Regions from separate parts of the Homo sapiens genome. Here region 2 is linked to region 1. A link means that fine-mapping ties the variant in region 1 to the expression of a gene that starts in the linked region. Tissue or cell type: whole blood. Region 1 holds a variant in brackets; the other region holds the start of a gene. All regions are shown on one strand. Distances are from middle to middle.

Region 1 (8,105 bases):
GGCCTGGGCAGATAGCATCAAGTGAAATGGGGCAGAGGGCCAAGCCTCAAAGCCTGAACCACCTGGACTCCTGTCCAGCACTCTCTCCACCCAGTACAAATGAAAGGCCAGCTGAGGCCAAGTGCAGTGGTTCACACCTGTAATCCCAGCATTTTGGGAGGCCTAGATGGGAGGATCACTTGAGCTTAAGAGTTTGAGACCAGCCTAGGCAACATGGCAAAATCCTGTCTCTACAAAAAAAAATACAAAAAAGTTTAGCTGGGCGTGGTGTTGCACGCCTGTAGTCCCAGCCACTTGGGAGGCTGAGGTGGGAGGATCGTTAGAGCCCAGGAGGCGGAGATTGCAGTGAGCCGAGATCGTGCCACTGCACTCCAGCCTGAGTGAGTGAGACCTTGTCTCAAAATAAGTAAATGAAAGTCCAGCTGAGCATCCTCCATTCTTTTGAAACTTGAGTGATGTCAATCCAGGGAGGTTGGCCTGGATGATTGCCCTTGACAGGAGCCTAGGCCTTTCCCCAAACAGTTTGGGGACAGAACTCACTGCTGCCCCAGTATTGGAAGGTGCAGACCCTGGCTACCCTGCAACCATAGTCGGCTTCTTCTTTCCAGCTTCACCAGCTGGTTTCCAGGGACCTGATCCTATTGGCTTTTGGTCTGCCTTGTCTGACAGCTTCCTGAATAGTAAGACTTGAAGATTAGTTCAGAATGCCTGACTCCAGCCACCACATTCTAATCTATTTTTAGGACAACATCCTCCTTCTCTGGCTCTCTGAGAAACTGCTCTTCTTTTTCTGTTTCTAAACTATTTCCATTCCCACCTTAGCCTGAGGTCTCCTCATCTGACAAAGCAAAGCTTAGGGGTTCCATTTCCTGCCCACAGCCCAGGGAGAAGATGCTGTTTTCACTAAATTCCTCTAGTCAAGGAAGAGGTAAGAAGACTTCACATTATATTAAATTATTATTATATATATACATATACATATATATATTTTTTGAGATGGAGTCTGCTCTGTCGCCCAGGCTGGAGTGCAGTGGCACGATCTCGGCTCACTGCAACCTCCGCCTCCCAGTTTCAAGCAATTCTCCTGTCTCAGCCTCCTGAGTTGCTGGGATTACAGGTGCACGTCACCACATCCGACTAATTTTTTTGTATTTTTAGTAGAGATGGGGTTTCACCATATCTGTCAGGCTAGTCTCAAACTCCTGACCTCCTGATCCACCCACCTTGGCCTCCCAAAGTGCTGGGATTACAGGCGTGAGCCACTGTGCCCACATGATATTAAATTAAAGAAGCATAGCAAAAATTGTATGCCCACTAACATTACAAGCATTTAAAATCTTTTTGCTTTAATTGCTTTATTCTAATTATTAAGGTAACACAAACCAATTGCAAAAACTTCAGAAAATACAATATAGGCGGGGCGTGGCAGCTCACGCCTGTAATCCCAGCACTTTAGGAGGCCATGGTGGGTGGATCACCTGAGGTCAGGGGTTCGAGACCAGCCTTTACAACCTGGTGAGCCCCATCTTTACTAAAAATGCAAAAATTAGTTGGGCGCGATGGCAGGCACCTGTAATCCCAGCTACTCAGGAGGCTGAGGCAGGAGAATTGTATGAACCCAGGAGGCGGAGGTTACAGTGAACCGAGATCACGCCATTGCACTCCAGCCTGGGCGACAAGAGCGAACCTCCATCTCAAAAAAAAAAAAAAAAAAGATTGCTTTGGCTATTGGGGGTCCCCTGGATTTCATATGAATTTTAGGATCAGCTTGTCAAATTCTGCAAACAATCTAGCTAGGATTTTTTTTTTTTTTTTTTTTTCGAGACGGAGTCTCACCCTGTTGCCCAGGCTGGAGTGCAGTGGACCGATCTTGTCTCACCACAATCTCTGCTTCCTGGGTTCAAGTGATTCGCCCGCCTTAGCCTACCAAGTAGCTGGGATTATAGGCATGCACCATGATGCCCAGCTTTTTTTTTTTTTTTTTTTTTTGAGACGGAGTCTTGCAGTGTTGCCCAGGCTGGAGTGCAGTGGCACAATCTCAGCTCACTGCAAGCTCCGCCTCCTGGGTTCATGCCATTCTCCTACCTCAGCCTCCTGAGTAGCCGGGACTACAGGCGCCCGCCACCATGCCCAACTAATTTTGTTTTGTATTTTTAGTAAGATGGGGTTTCACTGTGTTAGCCAGGATGGTCTCGATCTCCTGACCTCATGATCCGCCTGCCTCTGCCTCCCAAAGTGCTGGGATTACAGGTGTGAGCCACAGTGCCTGGCCTTTTTTTTGTATTTTTAGTAGAAACGGGGTTTCAACATATTGGCCAGCCTGGTCTTAAACTCCCGACCTCGGATGATCCACCCACCTCGGCCTCCCAAATTGCTGAGATTACAGGCGTGAGTCACTGCACCTGGCCTGGAATTTGTTTTGTTTTTGTTTTTGTTTTGAGACGAAGTCTTCCTTTGTCACCCAGTCTGGAGTGCAGTGGCACGATCTTGGCTCACTGCAACCTCTGACTGCCAGGTTCAAGTGATTCTCTTGCCTCAGACTCCTGAGTAGCTGGGATTACAGGTGTGTGCCACCACATCTGGCTAATATTTGTATTTTTAGTAGAGTTGGGGATTAGCCATGTTGACCAGGCTGGTCTGGAACTCCTGACCTCAGGTGAGATCTGCCTGCCTCTGTCTCCCACCGTGCTGGGATTACAGGCATGAGCCACGGTGCCTAGCCATACATGTATGTCTTCTTCTGAGAAGTGTCTATTCAATTCCTTTGCCCATCTTTTTCCTTTTTTTTCTATTGCTACTGCACAAATTAACCTTGGTCCATTATTTAATGGGTTTCCTTGGGTTTTGCTTGTTGATTTAAGTTTCTTATTGATTCTGAATATTACACTTTTGTCAGAAGCATAGTTTGCAAATAGTTTCTCCCATTTTGTAGCTTCTCTGTTTACTCTGTTGATAATTGATTTTTCTGTGCAGCTCTTTAGTTTAATTAGGTCCTACTTGTCAATTTTTGTTTTTGTTGCAATTGCTTTTGGAGTCGACATCATGGAGTCTTTGCCTGGGCCCACAACCAGAATGGTATTTCCTAGGTTTTCTTCTGAGTTTTTATAGTTTTGGGGTTTTACATTTCAGTCTTTAATCTATCTTGAGTTTATTTTTGTATATGGTGTAAGGAGGGGGTATACTTTCAACTTCTGTCTGTGTCTAGCTAGTTATATCAGTGCCATTTATGGAATAGGGAGTCCTTTCCCCATTGCTTGTTACTGTTGGCTTTGTTGAAGATCAGATGGTTGTATGTGTGTGGCTTTATTTTTGGGTTTTCTAATCTATTCCATTGGTCTACGTGTCTAATCTATTCCATTGGTCTATGGTACCAGTACCATGCTGTTTTGGTTACTGTAACCTTGTAGTTTGGTTTGAAGTTGTTTTGGCTTTGGATTGTTTTGGCTATTTGGGCTCTTTTTTGGTTACAAATGAATTTTAGAATGTCTTTTTTTTTTTTTTTTGAGATGGAGTCTCGCTGTGTTGCCCCAGGCTGGAGTGTAGTGGCATAATCTCGGCTCACTGCAACCTCCACCTCCTGGGTTCAAGCAGTTCTCCTGCCTCAGCCTCTCCAGTAGCTGGGATTATAGGCACCCACTACCACGCCTGGCTAATTGTTTTGTATTTTTAGTAGATATGGGGTTTCACCATGTTGGCCAGGCTGGTTTCGAACTGTTGACCTCAAGCGATCTGCCCACTTCGGCCTCCCAAATTGCTGGGATTACAGGCATGAGCCACCGTGCCTGGCTGTATATTTCTAATTCTGTGAAAATTAGAATTTTTGAACTCTTGACCTTAAGTGATCGGTTGGCTTCAGCCTCCTTTGGGAGGCAGGTGGATCACTTAAGGTCAGGAGTTCAAGACCAGTCTGGCCAACCTGGCGAAACCTTGTCTCTACTACAAATACAAAAATTAGCCGGGCACGGTGGCAGGTGCCTGTAATCCTAGCTACTCGGGAGGCTGAGGCAGGAGAAACTCTTGAGCCTGAGAGGCAGAGGTTGCAGTGAGCTAAGGTTGGGCCACTGCACTCCAGCCTGGACGACAGAGTGAGATTATGTCCCTCGCCACCGAAAAAAAAAAAAAGAAAGAAAGAAAAAGAAAAATGTCAATAGTAGTTTGATAGAGATAGCATTGAATCTGTATTGAATCTGTAAATTGCTTGGACAGTTTGGCCATTTTAACAATATTGATTCTTCCTATCCATGATCATGAGCATGGAAGATTTTTCAATTTGTTTGTATTGTTTCTAATTTCTTTCAGCAGTGTTTTGTAATTCTCATTGTAGAGATCTTTCACCTCCCTCCCCGGTTAGCTGTATTCCTAGGTATTTTATTCTTTTTTTTTTTTTGAGATGGGAGTCTCGCTCTGTCACCAGGCTGGAGTGCAGTGTCAAGATCTTAGCTCACTGCAACCTCCACCTCCTGAGTTTAAGCAATTCTTCTGCCTCAGCCTCCAGAGTAGTGTGCACCACCATGCCCGGCTAATTTTTGTATTTTTTTTTTTGAGACAGAGTCTCGCTCTGTTGCCCAGGCTGGAGTGCAGTGACGCGATCTCGGCTCACTGCAACCTCCACCTCCCGGGTTCAAGCGATTCTCCTAACTCAGCCTCCCGAGTAGCTGGGACTACAGGCACCCACTACCACACCTGGCTAATTTTTTTGTATTTTCAGTAGAGACAGGGTTTCTCCACGTTGGCCAGGCTAGTCCTGAACTC[T/C]GTACCTCAGGTGATCCGCCCGCCTCAGCCTCCCAAATGCTGGGATTACAGGCGTGAGCCACTGCACCCAGCCAATTTTTGTATTTTTAGTAGAGACGTGGTTTCACCATGTTGACCAAGCTGGTCTCGAACTCCTGACCTCAGGTGATCTGCCCGCCTCAGGCTCCCAAAGGGCTGGGATTACAGGCATGAGCCACCATGCCCGGCCAATTTTTGTGTTTTTAGTAGAGACATGGTTTCACCATGTTGGCCAGGATGGTCTCGATCTCTTGACTTCCTGATCTGCCCGCCTCGGCCTCCTAAAATGCTGGGATTACAGGCGTGAGCCACCGTGCCCGGCCTAATTTTTGTGTTATTAGTAGAGACAGGGTTTCACCATGTTGGCCAGGCTGGTCTCGAACTCCTGACCACAGATGATCCACCCGCCTTGGCCTTCCAAAGTGCTGGGATTACAGGCATGAGCCACCAGGCCTGGCCATGTAAGTGTTTTCAACATCAGACTTTGTTTTAATCTCTGCTGAGCAACAGACTCATATTTAATGCTGTAGTGTTTATAGGCATTTGGAAAGCTTTCATGTATTTCAAAGGCCTTCATTGTACAAAAACATGTTGAGAAAGGCACTGTCCTGAATCACCAAAGGGCGCTTATAGTTTGGTGGCAGATAAGAAGTCATTAAAATATAATTAGATAATTACAAAAATAGTGGCAATCCAGGAGAGAATGTACCTATCAGGACAAGAGTTGTGGCAATCCAGGAGAGAATGTACCTATCAGGACAAGAGTTGACCTTAAGTCAACTCTTCAAAGATAAGCAGTAGTTGATCTTAGGAAACACTAAGCAGAAAACATTAAAGGCAGGCTGGGTGCGGTGGCTCACACCTGTAATCCCAGCACTTTCGGAGGCTGAGGTGGGCAGATCACGAGGTTAGAAGATCGAGACCATCCTGGCTAACACGGTGAAACCCCGTCTCTACTAAAAGTACAAAAAATTAGCTGGGCGTGGTGGCAGGCACCTGTAGTCCCAGCTACTCAGGAGGCTGAGGGAGGAGAATGGTGTGAACCTGGGAGGCAGAGCTTGCAGTGCGCTGAGATCGCACCACTGCACTCCAGCCTGGGCGACAGTGCAAGACTCTGTCTCAAAAAAAAAAAAAGACATTAAAGGCAAAGAGTTAACTCCTGCAAGGACACAGAAACACAAATGAGTATGACATGTTCAGGGTACTTACTACATGTGGTTCAAAATTGTTTCACTCATTCATTCATTTGTTCATTCATGTTGGATTCAAAGTCAGCTGGATCATTTGAGGTTATGTCAGATCATGAAGGGCTTCAAGATTATTATTATTATTATTATTATTATTATTATTATTATTATTTTCTTTTTTGAGACAGAGTCTTGCTGTTGCCTAGGCTGGAGTGCAGTGGCATGATCTCGGCTCACTGCAACCTTCTCCTCCTGGGCTCAAGCAATTCTCCCGCCTCAGCCTCCTGAGTAGCTGGGATTACAGGTATGTGCCATCACAACCAGCTAATTTTTGTATTTTTGTAGAGATGGCGTTTCACCCTGTTGGCCAGTCTGGTCTTGAAGTCCTGACTTCAGGCAATCCACCCGCCTTGGCCTCCCAAAGTGCTGGGATTACAGGTGTGAGCCACTGCACCCGGCCCAAGATTATTTCTTGGAGACCGCTCTAGCAACAATATGGAAAACTGATTAGAGGTGAATAAGAAGAGAAATCATGATATCTAAATAAAGAAAGAGTAAGGAGGCTGGGCACTGTGGCTCACACCTGTAATTCCAGCACTTTGGGAGGCTGAGGCGGGTGGATCACCTGAGGTCAGGAGTTTGAGATCAGCCTGGCCAACTGGTGAAACCCCGTCTCTACTAAAAATACAAAAAATTAGCCGGGCGTGGTGGCGGGCGCCTGTAATCCCAGCTACTTGGGAGGCTGAGGCAGGCAGGAGAATTGCTTGAACCCGGGAGGTAGAGGTTGCAGTGAGCCGAGATCATGCCACTGCACTCCAGCCTGGGGGACAGAGTGAGACTCTGTAAATAAACAAACAAACAAACAAATAAAGAGTAAGGAGTTGGAGACCTGCCTGGACCTGGCATTTGAATGGATGGGGGTGTGAATATGTCGACCTAAAAGGAAGAGGCTGAGGCACAAAATATAAAGAGTTTACTTGAGCCCAAGTGAGGACAGCTGCCCAGAAGACTCAGACACAAGTAACCTTGGAGATGAGCTCCATCCAGGCTTTGTTACAAGTAGGGTTTTGTTTAAGGTAAAAGAGGGGGACAGGGAGCAGTCTGATGCAAAATTGTTTGTCAGGAATTCTCATTGGTTTACACACATAACATTGATTAGTGATTGGCTATACATTGTTAAACTACAGTGTGCGGATTATTTGTGTCCAGTGCATCATTTTTAGGTTACTTTATAGCTACTTGTGGCAATTGCAGGCAGTTTCAGGAGAAGAATACATAGCTTGTAAGGGAGGAGTAGGACATGATTGGGGTCTCATTTGAATGTCTTTCTGGGCCTGACAGTTTAAAGGACTTGCATTTCTCAGATAAAAGTTTTTCTTTTCTCAAAGGACAAGAAGGAATTCATTCATTCATTTCACAAGTTGAATTTAACAAATGTTAAATGAGAATTCTTAGATTTGCCTGAGCAAAAGGGGAGCTCGTGGTGTCATCTGCAACGTCTGTGAATACAGGGAGTGGATAAAGTTTGAGAGGTAATATATTCATTTCAGATTTGGATATGCTGAATTTGAGATGTTCGTGGTACACCCTGGCGTAAATGTGTATTAAGTTCTATGTATATCATTCTGGCATTTAAGATAAACATTTGTCATCTGTGTATAATACGCGGTTGTTGAAGTCATGACCTAGATGTTGCCTAGAAAGAGTCATAGGTGAGGCCGGGCGTGGTGGCTCACGCCTGTAATCCCAGCGCTTTGGGAGGCTGAGGCGGGCGGATCATGAGGTCAGGAGTTCGAGACCAGCCTGGCCAACATAGTGAAACCCCATCGCTACTAAAAATACAGAAATTAGCCAGGCGTGGTGGCACGGGTCTGTAGTCCCAGCTACTTGGGAGGCTGAGACGGGAGAACTGCTTGAAACCGGGAAGCAGTGGTTGCAGTGAGCCAAGATGGTGCCAACATACTCCAGCCTGGGCCACAGAACGAGACTCTGCCTCAAAAATAATAATAATAAAATAACCAAAAGCAGTGGACATGGTGGCGCACGCCTGTAGTCCCAGCTACTCTGGGAGGCTGAGGTGGGAGAATCGCTTGAACCCGGAAGTTCAAGTGAGCTGAGATCGCCCCACTGCACTCCAGCCTCGGCGAC
Region 2 (8,105 bases), 61 kb after region 1:
AAATACAAAAAAAAAAAAAAATTAGCCAGGCATGGTGCGCGCGCCTGTAGTCCCAGCTACTTGGGAGGCTGAGGCAGGAGAATCGTTTGAACCTGGGAGGCGGAGGTTGCAGTGAGCCGAGATGGCGCCACTGCACTCTAGCCTGGGTGACAGAGCGAGACTCTCTCAGAAAAAAAAAAAAAAAAAAAAAGAAAAAATCTTAAGAGCATCCCTTTCTATATTTTCTGACTCTCTAAGAAGCAATCACTCTGCCAAACTTATTTCCTACCGGGAAGGAGATCACTTCACAGTTGAGTATTCTGGGCTTCTGAGCAGTTACATTTCCCAGGGCAAATTAATACAGTTATGCATTCGTTTTTAACTTGTGTTTTACGAGTTGAGTTAATATGAGAGGTCGTCTAGCACCAGATCACCCTGGACACCTTGGATAAAAAGTTTCTGGACTTTTCAGTTGAGGACGTTTATTCCTTTCTCAAATTTCTTTTTCCACATCACCCCTAGAGTGATCATTCTCAGATTTGGGTCAGATATCACTCCTTGGCTTGAATTCCTTTACTTTACCTCACTCATCCTCAACTCATATATCTTATAGGATAAATTATTTCTAAAAAATACTATTTATTTATTTATTTATGACAGGGGTCACATTATGTTCTCCACTCTGGTCTCAAACTCCTGGGTTCAAGCAGTCCTCCTGCCTCAGCTGCCCAAAGTGTTGGGATTACCAGCGTGAGTGTGAACCACGACGCCTGGCCGAGGATAAATTCTTTAGCCTGGTATTTGAATCCATGCCTCCTTCCTCTGTTCTCCTTCTTCCTCCCCTGCCCTGGTTTCATTCCCTTTAAACTCTCCATCTCCCATCTTAATGTTAATGAATTACTTGTTGATGCCTGAACATACCCTTTTATCTGTTGCTCCCTGTTGTTACACATACTGAGTTAAACATCTTTCCCTGCCCCTTTTTACCTGAGAAACTTCCTGTTGATCCTCTGGAACTCAGGTCAGAGTATATACCTCCTTCTGGAAACCTTCCCTGACCATTCCCCAATCTGGAAAGATGTCCTCCTTCTGTGCTCTGTAACTTTCTTTTTTTCTTTTTTTTTTTTCAGGGTGTCTCTGTTGCCAGGCTGGAGTGCAGTGGCGCCATCTTGGCTCACTGCAACCTCCACCTCCCGAGTTTAAGCAATTCTCCTGCCTTATCCTCCTGAGTAGCTGGGATTACAGGCACCACCATACCCAGCTAATTTTTATAATTTTAGTACAGATGGGGTTTCACCATGTTGGCCAGGATGGTCTTGATCTCCTGACCTCGTGATCTGCCTGCCTTGGCCACCTAAAGTGCTGGGATTACAGGTGTCAGCCACCACGCCTGGCATATTTATTTATTTATTTATTTATTTATTTAGAGGTAGAGCCTCATTCTGTTGCCCAGGCTAGAGTGCAGTGGCACGATCTCGGCTTACTGCAACCTCTGCCTCTTGAGTTGAAGCGATTCTCCTGCCTCAGCCTCCTGAGGAGCTGGGACTAAAGTTGCCTGCCACCACACCCTGCTAATTTTATATTTTTGGTAGAGATGGGATTTCACCATATTGGTCAGGCTGGTCTTGAACTTCTGACCTTAAGCGATCCGCCAGCCTTGGCCTCCCCAAGTTCTGGGATTACAGGTGTGAGCCACCACGCCCAGCCTCTGTGACTGTTTAACTCACTAATCCCCCTCTACTGTCTCTGTGTCCCCAGCATGCAGGATACGGGTGGAGCATCACCATGAATGGGCGTTTTGAAGCAACCTTCTCCTCCCCACTTTTCTCCCCCTAGTTCAGGCAGGTTAGATACAGGGAGGAACAGGTGCTATGGCTCCGAGAGACAATGGCTATAACCTCTAGGTAAACCTCCCCAAGGGAAACAATATTTGAGAGAAGTACCCAGGAGAACCTAGGAGAGAGCCTAGGCTCAGCCTTTGGGGAAGCCAGCTGCCTTCTACAGCTCTTAGTGGCAGCCTCCCAGAACAAACCGTAAGAGTACTTCCTTCTGGAACAATAATAATAATCCAGGCTGGGGGCTCATTGGCTCATGCCTGTAATCCCAGCACTTTAGGAGGCAGAGGAGGGCGGATCACCTGAGGTCAGGAGTTCGAGACCAGCCTGACCAACACGGTGAATCCCTGTCTCTACTGAATACAAAAAATTAGCCGAGTGTGGTGGTGCGCGCCTGTAATCCTAGCTACTTGGGTGGCTGAGGCAGGAGAATCACTTGAACCTGGGAGGCAGAGGTGCAGTGAGCCGAGATTACGCCATTGCACTCCAGCCTGGGCAACAAGACAGAACTCCGTCTTGAAAAAAAAAATCTGTAATATTTACTGAGTGATTTCCATGTTCCAGGCAGTATTCTCATTGTTTTACCTGTACTTGCATTTACCTTATGTAATTGTCTCAAAAACCATGACGCCAGGCACTTAGAGATTAACTTGCTCAAGGTCAAAAGTAAATGATCGTCAGGATTGAAATCCGAGCATTTTTTTCTAGAGCCCATGCTAGTGACCACTATACCTGTGTTGCCTTTCTGGCCTCTGATCTCCAGTTTCCAACAAAGACACATCTGCCTAGCTTCTATGGGAAAGGAAATCGGAGGGTCCTAGGACAAGGACCAATAGGTAAGTTTCCCTTCGCCTCCTCCCTATCCTCTTACAGGAAAACAGGTTTAGGGGTGGATCTGAGAGTTTTCACAGAGTGAAGAGGAAGAGGAGCTCCCAAATGGCAGGCGCCTCTGGAGGCTTCCAGAGAAAAAAGGAGAGAGCGTGGGAAAAGGGCAGGCTGGGAGGTGGGAGCGGCGAGGAACGGGGAGCTGACCACAAGCCCAGGATTCCAGACCAGGCTTATGTCTCTTAGACTCAGCGTAACCTTGGATAAGTCCTTGCTTCTTTCTGAGACTCAGTTTCCCCGTCTGTAAAATAAGGGTAAATATAAAACCGGCTCATCCGCCCCTGCCAAAAGAGAGGACAGGGAGAAGGCCCTGTCTGGGGTCTAGGCTGACACGCTGCAGCTAGGATTAGGTGAGCTTCCGAGCTCAGTCGTGAGACCCCATCCTCATGGCAAGGCCGCGCTAAGATCTCTGGACCTCTGCTTGCTGGGTGGGTGGTTGGGGGCAGAGCATGGGCCAAATGCCCGGCTCTGCAGGCTGCGCCCACTCTTCTCGCACCTCCTCAGCCCTCCCTAAAGGAGTCTCAATCCCGGGGGAGTGGCAGTTGCGGGCGACCAAGCAGTCACCGGCTGCGCTGCGGCGACCTCCCGGGAAGCTGCGGCCGGCGGGGTCCGAAGAGCATCACGTCATCCTTTCCCCCAGGAGCCCGCCCCCTCCCAGACGGCGCCTGCGCAGGCGCGGTAGGAGGAGGGTCACGGTGGGGGCTGTCCACGCGCTCTCCGCCCTTCTCCAGGCTCGCTCGGGCCGCGGCGCTCTCGGCTAGCTGCAGCGGCGGCGGCGCGGAGGGGAAGGCATCCAGGATGCGGTGCGGGGCGGCCCGGTGCCCCCCCGCCCCGTCACGGCAGCCGCGGCGGCCGAGGGGACCGGGCCAGGGCCGGGGGCGGCGGCCCGAGCCGCGGTAGCGGCGGCGGCGGGAGGGGCGGCCTGAGGGCGGACGGGCGGGCGCCCGGGTTGCGGGGGCTCGGTGCCGCTCCGCACTGCCCGGCCGGTCTCGGCCCCGGCGCCATGAGTGGCGGCGGCGGCGGAGGGGGCTCGGCGCCCAGTCGCTTCGCCGACTACTTTGTCATCTGCGGACTGGACACGGAGACCGGGCTGGAGCCGGACGAGCTGTCGGGTGAGTGCGCGCCGAGCCCGGGGCGCTTTCCCGCGCCCGCTGTCGTCGGGGACCCCAGAAGAAACCTTCCTTCAGCCCCGCTTTGTCCCGGGAGCCGGGCGAGTGTCGGCCGGGAGGACCAGGGCGGGCGCGGGCGAAGGGGGCTTTGGACTGGAGGGGGGAAACGGATGAGGGGCTCTGAGCCATGAGGGGTCCAAACCTACGGCCCGCTGCGCAGTGGCCACGTCTTCGGCGACCAGAAAGAGGGAGGGTTGTGTGTTCTCAGTTTGGTGTAGGTTGAGTGACTTCGTTTAAAATAAAGGAAAGCTTGTCCTCTGGCACCCATTAGGGAGGGAAGGCGTCCCACGTCCTAGTGAAAGTAAGTTCCACCCAGACTTAAAAAAAAGGAAAACAAAAACTTGGTGAGTTTATCTGGCCACTTCCCAAGAAGCTTGTGATACTAGTTCCTCAAAACCGTTATACCCCAGCCCTGGGCTGGGCCCCCTGAGTCAGATTGCAGCTCTGCGCGTCTGGATGGGATATGAAGTAATAAAGTGAACTTGGGCGGCACCAAGAAGAGTAGGAACTCCCTTAGCCTTGGAAAGGGCTTGTATCCCGGGGCCATGCCTTTTTTGAAAAGTAATTTATGTCCTTTATGAGGACAGAGGCGTTTGTGAATAAAAGGGTAGCAGCATTGTAGTTGGAGAGGCTTGGTGTGTTCTGATGCGTTTCAAGTCATATTTGAAAGGGAAAGTGATGAGGGGAGTCAAAGATGGGGCCCTGACCAGATTTGGCACTCACTGCAGAAGGCCGTGAAAATTATACAGTCCCCGTGAATTTTCCACTGCACTGTCATTGGAGTCTTTGAATTGTAACAGTTTTGAAAATAAGTTTTTGTCTGGAGTTTCCAGTTAGTGGGTTTCAAGTGGGTGGAGGTTTGTCGGGTTGTACTTTAAGGTTGTGTCATCCTGATGAGGGGGACTCCTTTTCACTTTTCTGTCACTGTAAAGTTTCTCTTTCGAAAGTGATTATCCTGTTGACTAATCTTACTCGGCTTCAACGATGACAAGACAGTTTTGTTTTTGGGCACCAGAAAAAGTCCAGTGTTTCTTTTTTTTTTTTTTTTTTTTTTTGAGACGGAGTCTCGCTCTGTCGCCCAGGCCGGACTGCGGACTGCAGTGGCGCAATCTCGGCTCACTGCAAGCTCCGCTTCCCGGGTTCACGCCATTCTCCTGCCTCAGCCTCCCGAGTAGCTGGGACTACAGGCGCCCGCCACCGCGCCCGGCTAATTTTTTGTATTTTTAGTAGAGACGGGGTTTCACCTTGTTAGCCAGGATGGTCTCGATCTCCTGACCTCATGATCCACCCGCCTCGGCCTCCCAAAGTGCTGGGATTACAGGCGTGAGCCACCGCGCCCGGCCCAGTGTTTCTTATGAAAAAAAAATTAGGCGGGGCGCGGTGGCCCACCACCCGGCGGCTCAGGGGTAATCCCAGCACTTTGGGAGGCCGAGGCGGGCGGGTCACCTGAGGTCAGGAGTTCGAGACCAATTTGGCCAACATGGTGAAACCCCCGTCTCTACTAAAAATACAAAAATTAGCCGGGCGTCGTGGCGCGTGCCTGTAATCCCAGCTACTCAGGAGGCTGAGGTAGGAGGATCGCTTTAACCCAGGAGGGGGAGGTTGCAGTGAGCTGAGATTGCGCCAGTCTGGGTGATTGCGCCACTACACTCCAGTCTGGGTGATAAAGCGAGACTCTGTCTGGGAAAAAAGAAAAAGAAGAAAAAAGCATGATAAATTCATGCTTTAACAAGGTTAGAAAAAAATGAGCTATTTCCTCAATAGCAGGTGGAGAAAATATGAAGCAGTAATATAATTAATATTAGGCTTTTTGTCGGGGTAGTTTTATGGTTTCTAATTTACTTTAAAAAAATTTTAGTTTTAGGCCGGGCGCGGTGGCTCACGCCTGTAATCCCAGCACTTTGGGAGGCTGAGGCGGGCGGATCACGAAGTCAGGAGATCGAGACCATCCGGGCTTACAGGGTGAAACCCCGTCTCTACTAAAAATACAAAAAATTAGCCGGGCGTGGTGGCGGGCGCCTGTAGTCCCAGCTACTCAGGAGGCTGAGGCAGGAGAATGGCGTGAACCCGGGAGGCGGAGCTCGCAGTGAGCCCAGATCGCGCCACTGCACTCCAGCACTCTAGCCTGGGCGACAGAGCGAGACTCCGTCCAAAAAAAAAAAATTATTTTGATGAGTACCTAATAATTGTTCAAGTTTATCTTTTAAGGTCTTCAAATTCTTATAGTACAGATGTTTTTCATCTTTTTCATATGTAGTAAGTTTGTGACTTTGATGTAATTTTTGGAATTCGGTTCAGGGTATTGGTGTTGGAAGGGACCTCAGAGGGGAAAATGAGGCCCAGGAAGGACAGTGGGGCCTGTATACACTAGTTAATTGCTTGGTCCAGTGCTCTTCTCATGACATTAAACTGCATCTCATTGGCCTGGCTGGAGGTCTTTAGAAAACACTAACATGTTGAGAAATATTAAAAACAACATAATTCTTCTCAGTAAAAGAAACTAAGGTGGTGGAATAAACTTTTTTTTATGCGTGTTTTTGAGTGTCAAATTGTATGAACACTTGGTTTGAGAAGATAGAATGTTTTGCGAATGATAGAGCATAAGAATGAAGCTGGGAAGTTAACTGTTAGCGAGAGCATGAGTTTAGGGTAATATTCCTGCTCTCCTATTGACTATCTTTGTGATTGGGAGCAAGTTAGAGATAACCCTGTCAGGGTCCTCATCTATAAAAAAAGAATGTAAATAAAAATAATCTCATCAAGTAGACCTTCAAAAATGTTTAAAAACTGTCTTTCAACATTTCATTAAAAAAGAAATGTTACTGTCTTAATGGATATGTGTTAATTATCTGGCTTTTTGGCAAGCTAAAATTATATCCTTGTGAAAGTTTATTGGGATAATAAAGAAAGGGGGATGAGTTGTATAAAATGTGTAAAGAGGGGTATTTTCTGTTTTTTTAAAAATGTGGTTGCAGTAGTGGAATGCCGAGACCACATTTCCGATAGGTGGCCTTTGTTAGAGTATGCAGTGTTGGAAGGATTTTTTTTCCCTCTTCATTTCATTTCTGGTGGGTTGGTAGGGGAATCTGAACTATCCAGAGGGAATCTTTTTTTTTTTTTTTTTTTGAGACACAGTCTCACTCTGTTGCCCCAGCTGGAATGCAGTGCTGCAATAGTGGCTCACTGAAACCTCCGTCTCCCAGGTTCAAGCAATTCTGCCTCAGCCTCCCGAGTAGCTGGGATTATGAGCCGCGCGTGCCACCACATCAGGCTAATTTTTGTATCTTTAGTAGAGATGGGGTTTCACCATGTTGGCCAGGCTGGTCTTGAATTCTTGACCTCAAGTGATCTGCCCACCTCGGCCTCCCAAAATGCTAGGATTACAGGCGTGAGCCACCACTCCCAGAGGGAATCTTTGAATAAAACAAAGCAGAGTACAAATAGCAGGTTCTTCCTGAGAGTCTCCAGGGTGCATTTTCTCTCCTCAGCCTGCCTTGTAGCTCCCAAACTGATGATATCATACTCAGTAACTAACTACAGGAAATTGTAATTTGTAGCCAGGTTCTCCAAGAAGGTATTAAGGAGTCTCTAAGAAGGTGCACTCCACACAGTTAACTTACATAGCTCAGGTAGCATCTACATTCTTAAAAAGTGAACCCAGAATAAGCAAATCAAAGATGCTCGGTGTTCCTTCTTGTTTTGTGGAGAAAGGTTAAGATTCATTCCTCTCTGTCTGCAACAAATAAACATGGAGGCTGGGCGCAGTAGCTCACACCTGTAATCCCAGTACTTTGGGAGGCTGAGGTGGGTGAATTGCTTGAGCCCAGGAGTTTGAGACCAGCCTGGGCAGCACGGCAAGACTCTTATCTCTACAGAAAGTACAAAAAATTAGCTGGGTGTGGTGGCATGCACCTGTGGTCCCAGCTGCTCAGGAAGCTGAGGTGAGAAGGTCACTTGAGTCTCAGAGGCAGAGGTTGCAGTGAACTGAGATTGTGACACTGCACTCCAGCCTGAGCAACAGAGTGAGACCCTGTCTCAAATAAACAAATACAACTAAAAATAAAAAATAAAAAAACCCAAATAAGCATAGAGCTTGCTGTGTTTAATATAGACTGAGGTAATTGGATTTTGTAGGAATCTCTTCCTGTCACTTCTTTCCCTTTCTTGCAGACTCAGCATTTAGGCAAGTAATGTAGTTGTTTTTTGTGCAAGGAATTGAGGAATGTGTGAAAATTAA

What was found. PIP is the estimated chance that this variant, and not a neighbour inherited with it, causes the effect.
Region 2: it holds the start of DENND5A, and the variant in region 1 is fine-mapped to the expression of DENND5A in whole blood (TOPMed, PIP above 0.99).

The regions. Positions count from the first base shown.
Region 1 is chr11:9,321,723-9,329,827 of GRCh38, reverse strand. No RefSeq gene overlaps it. Among named protein-coding and RNA genes, the nearest start is that of TMEM41B, 11 kb to the right of the region's middle. The variant T/C (reference allele first, on the strand shown) is at 4,753.
Region 2 is chr11:9,260,667-9,268,771 of GRCh38, reverse strand. DENND5A (DENN domain containing 5A) reads left to right here and starts at 3,422. Exons shown (of 23, transcript NM_015213.4): 1 at 3,422-3,811. The coding sequence starts at 3,703. RefSeq lists enhancers at 3,121-3,190, 4,271-4,390, 4,551-4,890 and silencers at 3,471-3,570, 3,621-3,980, 7,850-7,909.